4 linked regions of the Homo sapiens genome follow. The protein of the gene in region 3 purifies or fractionates together with the protein of the main gene of each other region. This does not show direct contact. Each region holds a gene or a part of one and is shown on either strand. Other genes may lie near its edges.

The links. The genes of interacting proteins can lie anywhere in the genome.
Region 1: the proteins of CHODL (region 3) and RAD51C purify together in Homo sapiens (affinity purification with mass spectrometry; one large-scale study listed by BioGRID and IntAct). This does not show direct contact.
Region 2: the proteins of CHODL (region 3) and AP3S1 purify together in Homo sapiens (affinity purification with mass spectrometry; one large-scale study listed by BioGRID and IntAct). This does not show direct contact.
Region 4: the proteins of CHODL (region 3) and COL2A1 purify together in Homo sapiens (affinity purification with mass spectrometry; one large-scale study listed by BioGRID and IntAct). This does not show direct contact.

Annotation. Positions count from the first base shown.
Region 1 is NC_000017.11:58,706,102-58,709,601, reverse strand, and holds part of RAD51C (DNA repair protein RAD51 homolog 3), read right to left. Parts: intron 1-3,500. UniProt on the Homo sapiens protein: Essential for the homologous recombination (HR) pathway of DNA repair. Involved in the homologous recombination repair (HRR) pathway of double-stranded DNA breaks arising during DNA replication or induced by DNA-damaging agents.
Region 2 is NC_000005.10:115,911,258-115,914,581, reverse strand, and holds the end of AP3S1 (AP-3 complex subunit sigma-1), read right to left. Parts: intron 2,494-3,324; coding exon of another isoform or gene 2,446-2,493; exon of another isoform or gene 1,227-2,445; intron 1,221-1,226; coding exon 1,092-1,220; 3' UTR 501-1,091; downstream 1-500. UniProt on the Homo sapiens protein: Part of the AP-3 complex, an adaptor-related complex which is not clathrin-associated. The complex is associated with the Golgi region as well as more peripheral structures.
Region 3 is NC_000021.9:18,258,333-18,261,832, forward strand, and holds part of CHODL (chondrolectin isoform a precursor), read left to right. Parts: intron 1-1,867; coding exon 1,868-1,954; intron 1,955-3,500. UniProt on the Homo sapiens protein: May play a role in the development of the nervous system such as in neurite outgrowth and elongation. May be involved in motor axon growth and guidance.
Region 4 is NC_000012.12:47,994,477-47,997,976, reverse strand, and holds part of COL2A1 (collagen alpha-1(II) chain isoform 1 precursor), read left to right. Parts: intron 1-52; coding exon 53-106; intron 107-269; coding exon 270-371; intron 372-1,351; coding exon 1,352-1,429; intron 1,430-2,057; coding exon 2,058-2,102; intron 2,103-2,213; coding exon 2,214-2,267; intron 2,268-2,668; coding exon 2,669-2,722; intron 2,723-3,499; coding exon 3,500-3,500. UniProt on the Homo sapiens protein: Type II collagen is specific for cartilaginous tissues. It is essential for the normal embryonic development of the skeleton, for linear growth and for the ability of cartilage to resist compressive forces.

The sequences.
Region 1 (3,500 bases), on a different chromosome or scaffold from region 3:
CTTTAATCCAACCCTTACTAGATAGAAAAAAACATAGCATTGGAAAAACCATAGTCCATTACAGGAAAAAACCTTAAAACCCAGGGCTTTATTTCCAACTGTCTAAAGTATGGCTTTCTTTTGGAAAGTTACAAAGCTGTTCAGCCAGTGCTTTCTGCAATAATCACTAAAAGTTAAAACGGACTCTGCTTTGATAATTTCTCAACTTTAAAAAAGTAATTCAAAGGCTGGGCGCGGTGGCTCACACCTGTAATCCCAGCACTTTGGGAGGCCGAGGCAGGTGGATCACGAGGTCAGGAGTTCAAGACCAGCCTGGCCAAGATGGTGAAACCCCATCTCTGCTAAAACTACAAAAATTAGCCAGGCACAGTGGCAGGCACCTGTAATCCCAGGTACTCAGGAGGCTGAGGCAGGAGAATCTCTTGAACCCTGGTGGCAGAGGTTGCGCCACTGTACTCCAGCCTGGGCGACAGAGTGAGACTTTGTCTCAAAAAAAAAAAAAAAAAAAAGTAATTCAAAAAGAAAAAGGAATAATTATAATTTTCTTTAACTTGCCACTGTACACAGTCTTTACTGATAAAAAGCACATTTAAAGTCTTTGTAAAACATTCTGAAAAGGCTTAAAGAAAAAGTCTTGGTAAAACAACACATTTGTCAATTAAATATACCAATTTTACCTTCCGGGTTCTTTTTATGTTTCCTAAAACAAAAAACAAAAAACAAAAAAACCTTCAGGCTGGGCGCGGTGGCTCACATCTGTAATCCCAGCACTTTGGGAGGCCGAAGCAGGTGGATCACGAGGTCAGGAGTTTGAGACCAGCCTGGCCAACGTGGTGAAACCCTGCCATGCACTCCAGCCTGGGGGACAGAGCAAAACCCTTTCAAAAGAAAGCCCCCCCCAAAGCAAAAAATAAACAGTGAAGTTAGAAAAATAAACCAATATATAAACCTTAAGATCCCCAAATCAAAAAGAATCTGGAAACTAACCCAAATGTAAACAAACAAAAGACTCCAATGCTATGTTTTTTTCTATCTAGTAAGGGTTGGATTAAACAAGAGGCTTTTATGAAGCAATGCCTAAGTAAGTTGTTTTATTTAGAGTATTTGTTTCTTCATTTAGCAAGTATTAATTGACACCTCCTTTCCTATATGCTATTTACTGTTCCAGGCATTGGGGATGATATAGTAAATAAGAGAGAAGAATATAGTAAATAAGAGAGAAGGTCCCTGCTCTCTTGGAGGTTATGTTTTAGTGGAGTAAGGGACCATTAATATGCAAACAAACACACAAATAAGGTAATTTCCGATAATTATAAGAAAATGAAACTGGTTGAAGTGATGAAGAACAGGTGAACACTAATAAAAAGCACAAAAATGCAAAAAAAAGTGGCATTATAAAGACTGTGAAAAGGACACTTGTTTACAGTAGAGAGCTGAAATAAAAAGGCAGAACATGACCTTGTTCAACGTCAGCTGGGAATATGTGCACAGGTTGATTCGATTTTTCATGACTCCACACATGACCACTGCTGTGTCCCCCCAATATTCGTAAATTGAAGCCCTATCTCCCAGTGTGACTGTATTTGGAGAGAGGGCCTCTAAGGTAGTAATTAACGTAAAATTAGGTCATGAGAATGACATCCTGATTTGAGAGGATTAGTGTCCTTGAAGAAAAGACACCAAAGAGCTCACTCTTCCTCCTTCCTCCCCATGAGGACACAGCAAGAAGGTGGCCATCTACATGCCAGGGAGAGAGCTCTCACCAGAGACCAATCAGCCAGAACCTTATCTTGAGCTTCTAGTCTCCAGAACTGTAAGAAAATAAAATTTCTGTTGTTCAAGCCACTCAGACTATAGTATTTTTGTTATGGCAGCCTGAGGTGACCACAACAAATTTTAGTATCAAGAAATGAGGTATGGTGGGTTAGGTAGTGAGAGAAGCAAGGTACTACTATAACAAATACCTAAAATGTGGAAGTGATTTTCAAATTGGGTAATAAGCAAAGGCTGGAACAGTTTTGAGGCACATACTGAAAATATGGACATTAAGGGCAATTCTGGTGAGGCTTTTTTTTTTTTTCAGATGGAGTCTCGCTCTGTTGCCCAGGCTGGAGTGCAGTGGTGCGTTCTTGGCTCACTGCAACCTCCACCTCCCTGGTTCAAGCAATTCTCCCGCCTCAGACTCCCTAGTAGCTGGGATTAACAGGCACACGCCACCACACCCAGCTAATTTTTTTGTATTTTTAGTAGAGACGGGGTTTCACCATGTTGGCCAGACTGGTCTTGAACTCCTGACCTCAGGCAATCCGCCCACCTCAGCCTCCCAAAGTGCTGGGATTACAGGTGTGAGCCACCATGCCCGGCTATTCTGGTGAGGATTTATACAGAAATGAGGAACAAGTTACTGGAAACTGAAGGAAAGCTGGTGCTTAGTATAAAGTGGCAAAGAACTTGGCTGTGTTCTAGTATTTTATGGAAGGTAAAACTTGTGAGAAATGAAATTGGCTATTTATCTCAGGAGATTTCTAAGCAAAGTGTAGAGGAAGTGGCTTGGTTTCTCCTAGACCACTTATAGTAAAAATGAAAGAGGAGACAGATGAATTGAAGAAGGAATTGTTCAGCAAGAAGGAACCAGAACTTAGAGATGTAGAAAATTCTCAGCCTATCCATATTGCTAAAAATAAGAAAGCTTGCTCTAGAGAGAAGACCAAAGGTACGGTTGAACAATGACTCTATAAATAGATTATCCATGATGTTAATCAGCCATCTCAGCAGAAGCCAGTGATAGATAAGGGATTATAACAGCAGAAACACTGCTAGTTTGAAGTAAAGAGGACAGAGTAAGTGGGAAAGAATGAACGAAGGCTGTTGGACTTCCTTGATTCCACAAGAGAAAACCATGAGCTACTTGACTGTGAATGTGCCCTATTCCTCAAGAAAAGGAAAGAATGGTGCCAAAGGGGATCACAGATCCTCAGAGCTGTCACTCTTACCATAAGCCCAGGGGGCAATGCTATGTCGTCCTTGGTTTCAGAGGGTGGGGCCCTTGCAGAGAGAGGAAGGGGCAGGGCCACCCCACAGAGCAGTAGGGTGATTCTGCTACTGCAGTGGGCCTGGAAGGCAGAGCATCAAAGCAAAGGATCATTCTTTTTTTAATTATTATTATTTTTTTGAGATGGAGTCTCACTCTGTCACTCAGGCTGGAGTGCAGTGGCATGATCTCATGTCACTGCAATCTCCTCTGCCTCCTGCGTTGAAGTGATTCTTCTGCCTCAGCCTCCCTAGTAGCTGGGACTACAGGCACGCACCACCATGCCCGGCTAATTTTTGTATTTTTAGTAGAGACAGGGTTTCACCATATTGGCCAGGGTGGTCTCAAACTCCTGACTTCGTGATCTGCCTGCCTCAGCCTCCCAAAGTGCTGGGATTACAGGCATGAGCCACCGTGCCTGGCCAGCAAAGGATTATTCTTGAGCCTTATGGTCCAATGAAATTTGCCT
Region 2 (3,324 bases), on a different chromosome or scaffold from region 3:
TATGGAAGTATTTCAAAGAGAATATTTGAGGAAGGAGAACTAGAACTGTAAGGAAAACCTTAGTCTAACTGGAAAAGTAACCTCACTCACAGTTCATGGAAGACCAAATAAAATGTGGGCCAATTATAAGAAACTAGAATATGTGAGTGTTAGGACTTAAGAAAACATTAGTTTAACTTTGTTTTAGGATGAAACAGACAAGTAGAGTCCCAAGGGTTTTTGTATTCAAAATCAATTAGGTATTGGCTGAAATTATTTTTTACCATCTGGGCAAGAAGGAACAAGAGGCAAGGCTTAAAGCTATTTGTATAAAAAAGATTTTACATTTTCTCAATATACATTTTAGAAAGACTGTCGCCCCCCCACTCCAGATCTCATCTTGCGCAATATGCCTAAGATACACTGCTCTTGATTTGTGAAATAATTGAGTTTCCGAATAATTTACTGAGTTTCTGAATATTAAAAATATGAGTAAAAAATAAATCGACATTAACATCTGCTTAATAGTGATAAAATATACTTTTATTTACTTTGTTGAGTCAGAGGGTTGTAAAAAAAATTATTGCTAAAGTAGATATCAGGCAAACAGAAAGGTGCTTTAGAAGTCCAGTTACCTTGGAGTTTATTTAAACTAAGAGAAAAAAGTCATAATGTTTTCATGCAATACATACTTGGTTCTCCAAATAACAACTGTGTGACATATAGCAGAAGGAATTAAGGAATGCTGCACTTGTGATCCATACAAAACACCAACATTTTAGGTTGTACATAATTAGAGAAATATCTGAAACACTTTTTAAAACACTGTAGTAGCCAATACATAGAGGCATGCCGTAGGTGGGCACAGGAATGCAGTTTAGAAAAGAAAAAAAAAAATCACATAGGAACTACTCAATTTCTTTAAAATCACTGAGCAAGAACAGCAACATTGAACTTTCATACTGATTTTACACAACTTCTATACAGTACCTTGACTTAAATCCAAGAGCAAAAGTTAAGACTCTCCTCCTCTATTTTTGGTAAACAACTGCATGGTAAACTTAGATGACTCTTCCCCCTGGATTTTACCTGGGAGTGGCCTTTTTACATTTTTATTTAAAAGAGGGCAGGTTTGGCACTTTTATACTGATGTCACCAATGTTAATATTTCTTGGGATCTCAGGAAGATTCATATTCTTTACAGCTGATACAGCACGGGCTGGAGCTCCTGCTAAGCCAGCCTGTATACAGAAGCAAATAAAAGAAAAAGAAAATGTACAACTCAGGTGTAGCTCATCATAAAACACTTACAATGGAAGACAATGATAAAAGATTTTCATATAACAAGCTTAGGGACCAGATGGTAGTTTGAATTGGTATGGAATGGTTACTTTGAAATACTAATCTATAAAGAGAAAACAGTGACACATTAAAAAATACAGTGAACACATGCAATGATAACAATGTAAAGATTTAAATACAAATTAATGTGCACTACCACACAATATTCACATGATAAAACCTAAATCTTCACCTATATCTTGATTTAACTGACAGATAGCATGAAGCATGATTTACATTAGTTTCCTTATTAAATATCTCTTGCAACGATTGTGATAGATTTTCTTTTGCTTTTAAAATGGCATTTATTAGCAATATGTGCTGTGAAATAAAAATTGCAAGTAATAGATTGTGCTTGTTTAATTTCTTAGGGATAAACCCTTAAAACATTTTAAAACAATAAAATTAGTTTTTTAAATTGTGAGGGCTCTTTTAAACTTTTCTAATAAAGTTCTAGAACATTAAAAAAATAGGCTTTCAAGTAAAGCCTCAATCCAAAGAATATAGTTCTGCCTAAAGATGAAACTACACGAAGAGGATCATTCCAACCCTTTGATGCATTAGTAAAAATATAACGATTAAAAATGTTTTGTCATATAGCATAGATTCAGCAACATATATTCAGCTTACAGTTTACAAATTTAGAGAAAGAAAAGCATAAATGCAAGAGGTAGTAAATATAAATAAATGAATTCTAAAATTTCCAGTAAGTACCACTAGTGCATAATATTTGGCTTTCCTATTAGTAGGAACATTTGTAATTTGTGAAATAATTTTAAAAGAAAATATGCTTACAAATAAAAGAAAATGCATACATATCATTTTTCTCACCTACGTTAACAGCCTTCATATTTGAGGTTTAATTTATATACCAATTACATTTCATTACTTTTTATTCAGGCTATATAATAAAGCAAAGTCAACAAAGACATCTGAGTTCAGTGGCATCATTTTGTACAAAAATAGACAACAAAAACGAATCTTCCACTTTGATTAGATTATATATGGCAATGTCCATAAAATTAGAAACACTAGCTTTAAGGTCCCTTTTCATAATTTTAGTTTTCTTTTCTTATGTAATCCTACCTTTGTTAATTAAAATAAAAATAATAATAAAGCTGTTACCTGAGAAAAATCTTGACTGATACAAAATAGGCCAGTGTAAACTATTTGCTAAATAAAGGATACAAACATTGTTAAGCAATGAAATAAAAGCCATGGATTATCAATTCAGAATTGGAAATAATAGAAAAATTAGTAGAATAGTATTAATAATAAGTATATTCTACACAGGCAATGATAAGAGTGATACAAATGAATAACTCCATACCCAATTAAATAGTGAATAGGGCTGGAGAAGTTTTATAATTTAATGGATGTTAGTTATTTTTGATGTACAACTAAAAATGTGATTGACCTCTATACTTATACCTACCTGAAGCAATGAAGTTTTTGTTACCCCCCCTTCCTTCCTGCTCCCCCAAAGATGTTGGAGATACAACTAAATAATAATTAAGGCAGCATGTATAATATTTGAAAGGGTCTTTAATTTGATCGTTTCAAGTTAAAGGTCTAGCTACCAAAATTTAGAGTGGGTTGGGATCAAAGAAGAATCCAATTCAAAGAGGTTTACCATCTTTTGGCTTTCTTTTACCAGGAAGTATGTTGTCTACTAAGGAAGAAAAATTTACAAAATTGCAGACGTCCTGGAGGTAGTATCATTTTTTAGATAGGAGGATTTTGTAATTTTTCTAGTTAAAAGACCAATTTGCCACTATTTTTACTTAGGAATTTCCATAAAGAAGACAAATAATGAACTGACTATAGAAAAGTATTGACAAAATATTTGAGTATAAATATTTTAAAGGTGTGAATTATTAAGGGATTTTATTATTGTGAGAGAAATTGTGCGTGTGTGTGTGTGTGTTTATCTGTGTATTTTATTGGACACTATGGTTTACACTTATAAATAGTAAACATAATGTTTTCAGTATTAAATGTACA
Region 3 (3,500 bases):
TGATATTTTAAATTTGTGACATTCTATGTACTTAAGACTACTGGATAATACAAGTACAATATTATGCATTATTCTTAATATTACATTATCGCCTTCTCCTTTCTTTTGAGTTCAAAGGTCAACTATTTGACCCTTCATTGTATTATATTTATTTTATTTTTGCATCAAAATTTATGCCATTATTTAGGACACTGTAAATCTTACAATCTTCTTTACTTGTTTATGTATTAGGTAATCTAGGTTTACATTACTCATGCAAGAGCATTTATGATATAAAATTATTCTTTCTTTATCTTCTCCATTCTACCCAAATCTTCAAATAATCTATATTTATTAAAATATTATTTTATGTAGTTTTTGTTTTGAAGCACATTCACGGGTTTACTGTTGGCCTTATTAATGTGCTCAGGATTTTTATTTTTTATTTCATGATTTAATCTTTTTTGTCTTTTTATTTATATTTAGTTAACCCTCCTTGAGCTTAGTGTCTGCTTAGTAAAGGATGTTGGTTTGATTAAATTCCTTGGTTATGTAATCAGTGCTTGATTTTTAGTGATATTTTGCATAATATTTATATTATTTGTTTAAAAATACCAGTTGACTAGGCATAGAGTGACTAAGTTCTCTAGAAGAGTAGGTATAGTCTAGGACTGAATCTGAAACCCAGAGGAGGCTATTAAAATGTCAGAGTTAAATCTGTGTACAAGAGTAACAAATATTTCTACAGAATGGATTATGATTAAACTTCCAACAAAGGGGGACTCTGTGACATTTTAAGGCAATGTAAGAATGGTAAACATTAAATTAAAATTCTTCTCTATCCTGAAGACTATATAAGAACATGGGTTCTTATTTCAATTGATAAAAGTAGAGAGTTACACTTTTGGAACAAATGGAAACAAATTTACAGGCTTTTTTTTAAATAATTCAATTTATTTTCATTGAATTATTGATTTAACAAATAGTTCCTTAAGGAAAAGAAAAATAGAAAATAGAGCAATACGAAATCATGACAATAAACTTCAACAATTTTAAAGTGTGTAGCAAGAGAAAAAAAAGCCAGGAATAATAGTTAATGGATGCTGGGCTTCATACTTAGGTGATGGAATGATCTGTGCAGCACCGCACCATGGCACACGTTTACCCACGTAACAAACCTGCACATTCTGCACATGTACCCCTGAACTTAAAAGTTAGAAGAACAATAAAAAATAAAGTGTGTGGAAATTGAAGAGACATCTATAAAACTAGGGAAAGAAACAACTTGCAAGCTTTAATTTAGTGTTATTATTATTATTTTTAAAAGTAGACACTATTGGAAAGCAAATCTAAGGATGGCATTGTATATGCAGAACAGAAATGTGGCTTAGAACGTTGTTACTTGAATCATCAATTCCAAATGCAATCCACATACAGTCATCTGCTGATTATTATTGCAAGGGGAAACCCAAATAATACACTGATATTAGTAAAGAAATTATCTTGCTTGTCTCTGAACTGCATTTAATATATCACACTCTTACGTTTGCCAATTCTTGGTTATCCTTGCTTAACTTTGTGACTGGTCCGCCATTATTGCCTGCAGCAGGCTATCATCAGCACAGACCCACTGTTGATTGCTAATTGCAATTTGGAGTTTTAAGGGAGAACATATCAACTCCATCTTTTATTCAAAGAGAATTAAATGTTGACTTTATAGTTAGATAATTTCATGTAAATTTAAATTCAGAATGTATTTTATTAGCTGTAAGCTGTTCAGAAATCAAAATTGTGATGTTTTTATTTTATAATATAATTTCATATTTATATATATTTTCAATTCTCTTGTTTAATCATTATATATGATGGTGGTTCTTATTATTTACAGAGATTAATCCAACAGCCCCTGTAGAAAAGCCTTATCTTACAAATCAACCAGGAGACACCCATCAGAATGTGGTTGTTACTGAAGCAGGTAATTACTTCATGTGTCTTTAACTTCATCAAGAACTGAACTGTACTTTCAAACGCTGCTTCATGTTGACCCCAGTGAAACTTGTCTTGCCTGGGGAAGTGGTTCACTAAGTATGGTCCTATGGACATTTACTTTTGAACTAGGTTAGAAAAAATTATGCTAAGCTAGTATTTGAATAGAAAAACCTGTTTTGTTTTCTTCAGAGTGGTACTAAACTAAGTGATCCACATTAAAATTTGGATCTGGCCAGGCACAGGGGCTCACACCTGTAATCCCAAGAATTTGGGAGGCTGAGGCAGGTGGATCACTTGAGCCCAGGAGTTTGAGACCATCCTGAGCAACCTGGTGAGACCCCATCTCTGCAAAAAATACAAAAAACTAGCCTGGCGTGGAGGTACACACCTGCAGTCCCAGCTACTGGGAAGCTGAGGTGGGAGAATCACCTGAGTCTGGGAAGTCGAGGCTGCAGTGAGCAGTGATCATGCACTACAGTCCAGTTTGGTCAACAAAGTGAGACCCTGTCTCAAAAAAGCAAACAACAACAACAACAACAACAACAACAAAAAAACACCACCAACAACAACAAAAGAACTTTGGATCTACAAGAAATTTCTCTAACAACATGTAGGCGTCATGATGCAAATTGGCACATTCAGTGGAGAGCAAACAGGGGTGGGCTGGTAAATGTTTAGGGATTGGTTGGATCCTTAAATTGCTTGAAGTCAAACAGGAGTGGGAGGAAACAGCAAATTATCGCTCAGATACCCTATTGCTCATGAGTTTGTCTTCTGTTAACAAATGAAGTGATGCGCAGTTAAATGTAGATAAAAGCTTTATCTACATCTGGTCCACTTTGACCAGAATTATTCAGATTAGTCATGATGATGACTTTTAATTTACAAGCTAAATGCATAGTTCTTGAATTTGCTTTTTTTGCATAGACATGATATTAAGGCTTAGTGCTTTTCACTTTTCAGGTGCCTGGTTTTAAAACCATTCAGAACATCTAAACCTAATTACATATGTAACTAACCTGCACAATGTGCACATGTACACTAAAACTTAAAGTATGATAAAAAAAAAAAAAAAGATCAGTAGGCTGGGCGCAGTGGCTCACACCTGTAATCCCAGCACTTTGGGAGGCTGAGGCAGGTGGGTCACCTGAGGTCAGGAGTTCGAGACCAGCTTGGCCAACATGGCAAAACCCTGTCTCTACTAAAAAATACAAAAATTAGCTGGGCGTGGTGGCAGGTCCCTGTAATTCCAGCTATTTGGGAGGCTGAGGCAGGAGAATCACTGGAAACTGGGAGGCAGAGGTTACAGTGAGCCAAGATTGCGCCATGCACTCTGGCCTGGGAGACAGAGCAAGACTCTGTCCCTCCACAAAAAAAAAATATTCAGTAATCACATTAGAAATACTTTTTTCTCTTTTGAAATTGAGCAGATGTTTATTAATTTTAAGTTGTATGGAATTACAGTGTCACGGTTTTTTAATTTTACTAAGAATACCTAGCATTATCAAATGTGATGGAACAGGATTAAAAAA
Region 4 (3,500 bases), on a different chromosome or scaffold from region 3:
GATCTGCAGGCTCCTGGCCTTGCTGTCATCTTACCATGTTCTTCACCTTCAGGGACCTGCAGGGGAACAAGGACCCAGAGGGGATCGTGGTGACAAAGGTGAAAAAGTGAGTAAAAAGCAATGCTGCTTGACCCTGGTGGACTTCCCAGGTCCCCCAAGGCCCCACCATGTGTTTAAGGGCCTGGTCACCTCTTAAAGAGCAGCCAAGGGACAGATGGCTCTTGGAGAAACACTGCTTCCCATTGATGCCTTTTTCTCTTTATGCCAAGGGTGCCCCTGGACCTCGTGGCAGAGATGGAGAACCTGGGACCCCTGGAAATCCTGGCCCCCCTGGTCCTCCCGGCCCCCCTGGTCCCCCTGGTCTTGGTGGAGTAAGTATCCTTACTTCCCATTCCTTCAGGCTGTCCCTCCAGAAATGTGGCTTTTAAATTGCTGCTTGCACTTACCTGGCTGGCTCCCAGGGCTGCCAGCAGTGTGTACATAGCCTGTCCATGGGCTTTGCCCTCAGGCCTGTAATTTAGAAGAGTCACATATTAGGCATGAGACTGTGGTGCTAAGGGCTGGCTTTTTTCACTAACTGGGATTCTATAAAGAAAGTCCTCAGTTACCTGGCTTCCTGGCATCTGTACCACGTAGTTGATGCTGGGGGGTGGGTGTAAGGGATAGGAGGAAGGATGACTGGGCACTTGTATTTCCCTGGAAGACGAGTGACCACTGTCCTTGGAAGACATTTATCCTTGGTTCTTGCCAAGTACATTCCAAGCAACTATTCACTCTCATGAAAGAGCTCCACTGAGTGAAGGTGTGTGGCTAAAGTCAATTCTGGAATCAAACCAATCAACAAATTATATGATTGCCTAGTTTTTGCAGGTTTGCTATTTTGATGTTTGCTGTATTTTAAATTCTTAAACTCAAATGGGATCACAGATGCCTACTACATCTCTTGCTGAAATATTCCAAGACTGTTGATTTTAGTCTTTTGCTGGGCACTAAAGTCTTAAAGAATAAAGAACACCCTTAGAAGGTTTGGTTATGTTTCTCCATATACGTTAAATAACATCTGTCATATTTTAGAGCATAAAAATAATTTTATAAAATGAAATGCAAGGAACTGATACTTCCTCAAATAACACTTTCCCTTCCAGTGAAATGATTTTGCCACTGTCATCTAATAATCCATTCCCAAAATTACTTTCCAGGCATCAGTGGTAATTCTGATCAATGATAGGTTAGTCTCCAACAATCAGAGTTTATCTCAGTAGAGTTCTTTGTATCCATATAGAGCTTACCTAGCCAAGTAGGGAAGACCTAGTGCCTTTCAACCTCCTAACGTTGTTGGGTTTCTTTGCAGAACTTTGCTGCCCAGATGGCTGGAGGATTTGATGAAAAGGCTGGTGGCGCCCAGTTGGGAGTAATGCAAGGACCAATGGTAAGAAAAGACACTAGTTCTTTGCAGCCAAAATGGCAGGAGGTGGCCCTTAGCAGAGCCAGAGAGTCTGACAACCTCTGCTTTACAGATAATTGCTTAGAGTGGCTCTCCTCCGTAGTTATGTAACCTCCCATTCAGCTAGCCCAAAGCATTTGGTTTTTAATGGCAATGGATGCCACTTTTAATGATGCGCTGGAGTGACTAAGAAGAATGAAGATGGGGAGATGCATATAGGCTGATCTGTTAGAAGACCAGTTGCTATTGCTCTTGGAATGAGAACTGAAGAATGCAGACAGCAGCTACTGTTCTCCAGCATCCACAGACTTCCAGCAGGAAATCTCAGCCCGCAGCTCTGACTTGGCACATGCTAAATGAAACTCAGCCTTTAGTAAACATGGCTGCTGTCCAGGAGAAAGCAAGGCCAGCTTTTCTGTCCAAATGGTGCCTATAAATAAAAATAGAGTGTTGCGTGGGGAGTGGGAAATGAGAGGGAGCAGCCACTCTAGGCCCCTTGCCCACAGAGTAACTTCTTGTCCTTTGCCCGGGCTGTTGGCTGGGAGAAGATGGCACACTGGAGGCCACTGAGGAAGCATGTGTAGTAAACCCCTCATTTTCTGTTCCGATGCAGGGCCCCATGGGACCTCGAGGACCTCCAGGCCCTGCAGGTGCTCCTGTAAGTATCTGCAATTCTTTTTGCCTCCATCGTGTCGCAGATGATTCCCAAGCACTATGATGTTTTAGCAGTTTATAGGGATTGACCTGGTATCCTCATTTTACTTTTTAGGGGCCTCAAGGATTTCAAGGCAATCCTGGTGAACCTGGTGAACCTGGTGTCTCTGTGAGTACCAGCACGGCCCTGTCCCTTCTCTGGGGGAGCCTCTAATGATAGACCACTAGGACCGCAGCTGCTGTCCCTCCCAGGCTCTGCCCAGCTCTTTCCCACAGTCGGTGGCCCCAAGGAAATTCGGATGTCACTTCCTAGCTGTGGAGGAACTCTGACAGACAGCCCAATGTGGCAAGGACCACCAGGGACTCTGTCCTAACAGCCCCCTTTCCGGGTCACCCCAGCCTGTGCTATCTGCTGCGTCCCACTATGATCTCTGCACCTTTGCTCTGACCTTCCCATCTTTCTTCTTCATAGAAGAACTGGCTTCCAAAACTACAATGTCAAAGTTTTGTCCATTGCTTAGGTGTCTTCCCACTATAACCATCTCTTAAACTATCTTCCTTTGTTTGTAGGGTCCCATGGGTCCCCGTGGTCCTCCTGGTCCCCCTGGAAAGCCTGGTGATGATGTGAGTATACACGAGTAGACAAATGAGGAGCTGCCTCCTTTGAAAGGGCCTGGAGAGGGTGTGTGCTTGGGGAGTGACAGGGAGGCACCCAGGGTGGAGGTATCTTGAGGAGCAAGACTGGGCAGTCCCAAACCCTGACGCCATCTCCTATCTATATGGCCACTGTGACTGTGCTGGCAAGTTCCCTGGGGACCGCTTTGGATCCAAGGGGAAGACAAATAATTAAAACATCATTAGCCCCAGGAAGGGAAATTGAGAAATGAGAGAAGGGAGAGAAAAAATACAAGGCAGAAAGATGTAGAGAAGGAAAAACAAAGAAAGAAGCGTTCAACAACCCAGCATTATCTTAATTGTAAATGAGTTAGAAAAAGCACAGCCTGAGTCAGGATGTCTACAAAGGATGCAAACGAAATGAAGAGACAAGAATTGGCACTCTTGTGCTATTTTTATGAATTGCATTAGACAGTAAAAGTCTCTTGAGGTTAGAGAGAGCACATACAGTCAGCAGAACCTAGGAGAGGAGAGAAAAAGCCTCTCAGGGGAAGTTGGAGGCTGGTGAGGACAGAGGAGCTTGCCCATGGGCTATGCATGTGTCCAAAAGAATAAATGGTGACCCATGAAAGGCATCCAGGCACGTGGAGTCTGAAGGAGGTGAGGGAGATGAGTGAGCCGGTAGGCAAAGGCATGGAGGGCTGGAAGGAGGGAAGCCCTCTGGGGTGCCCCCACTATGCTACTGCGTCTCTGAGGAAGCTGGGATATCTCTCTCTCTCCCTTCAGG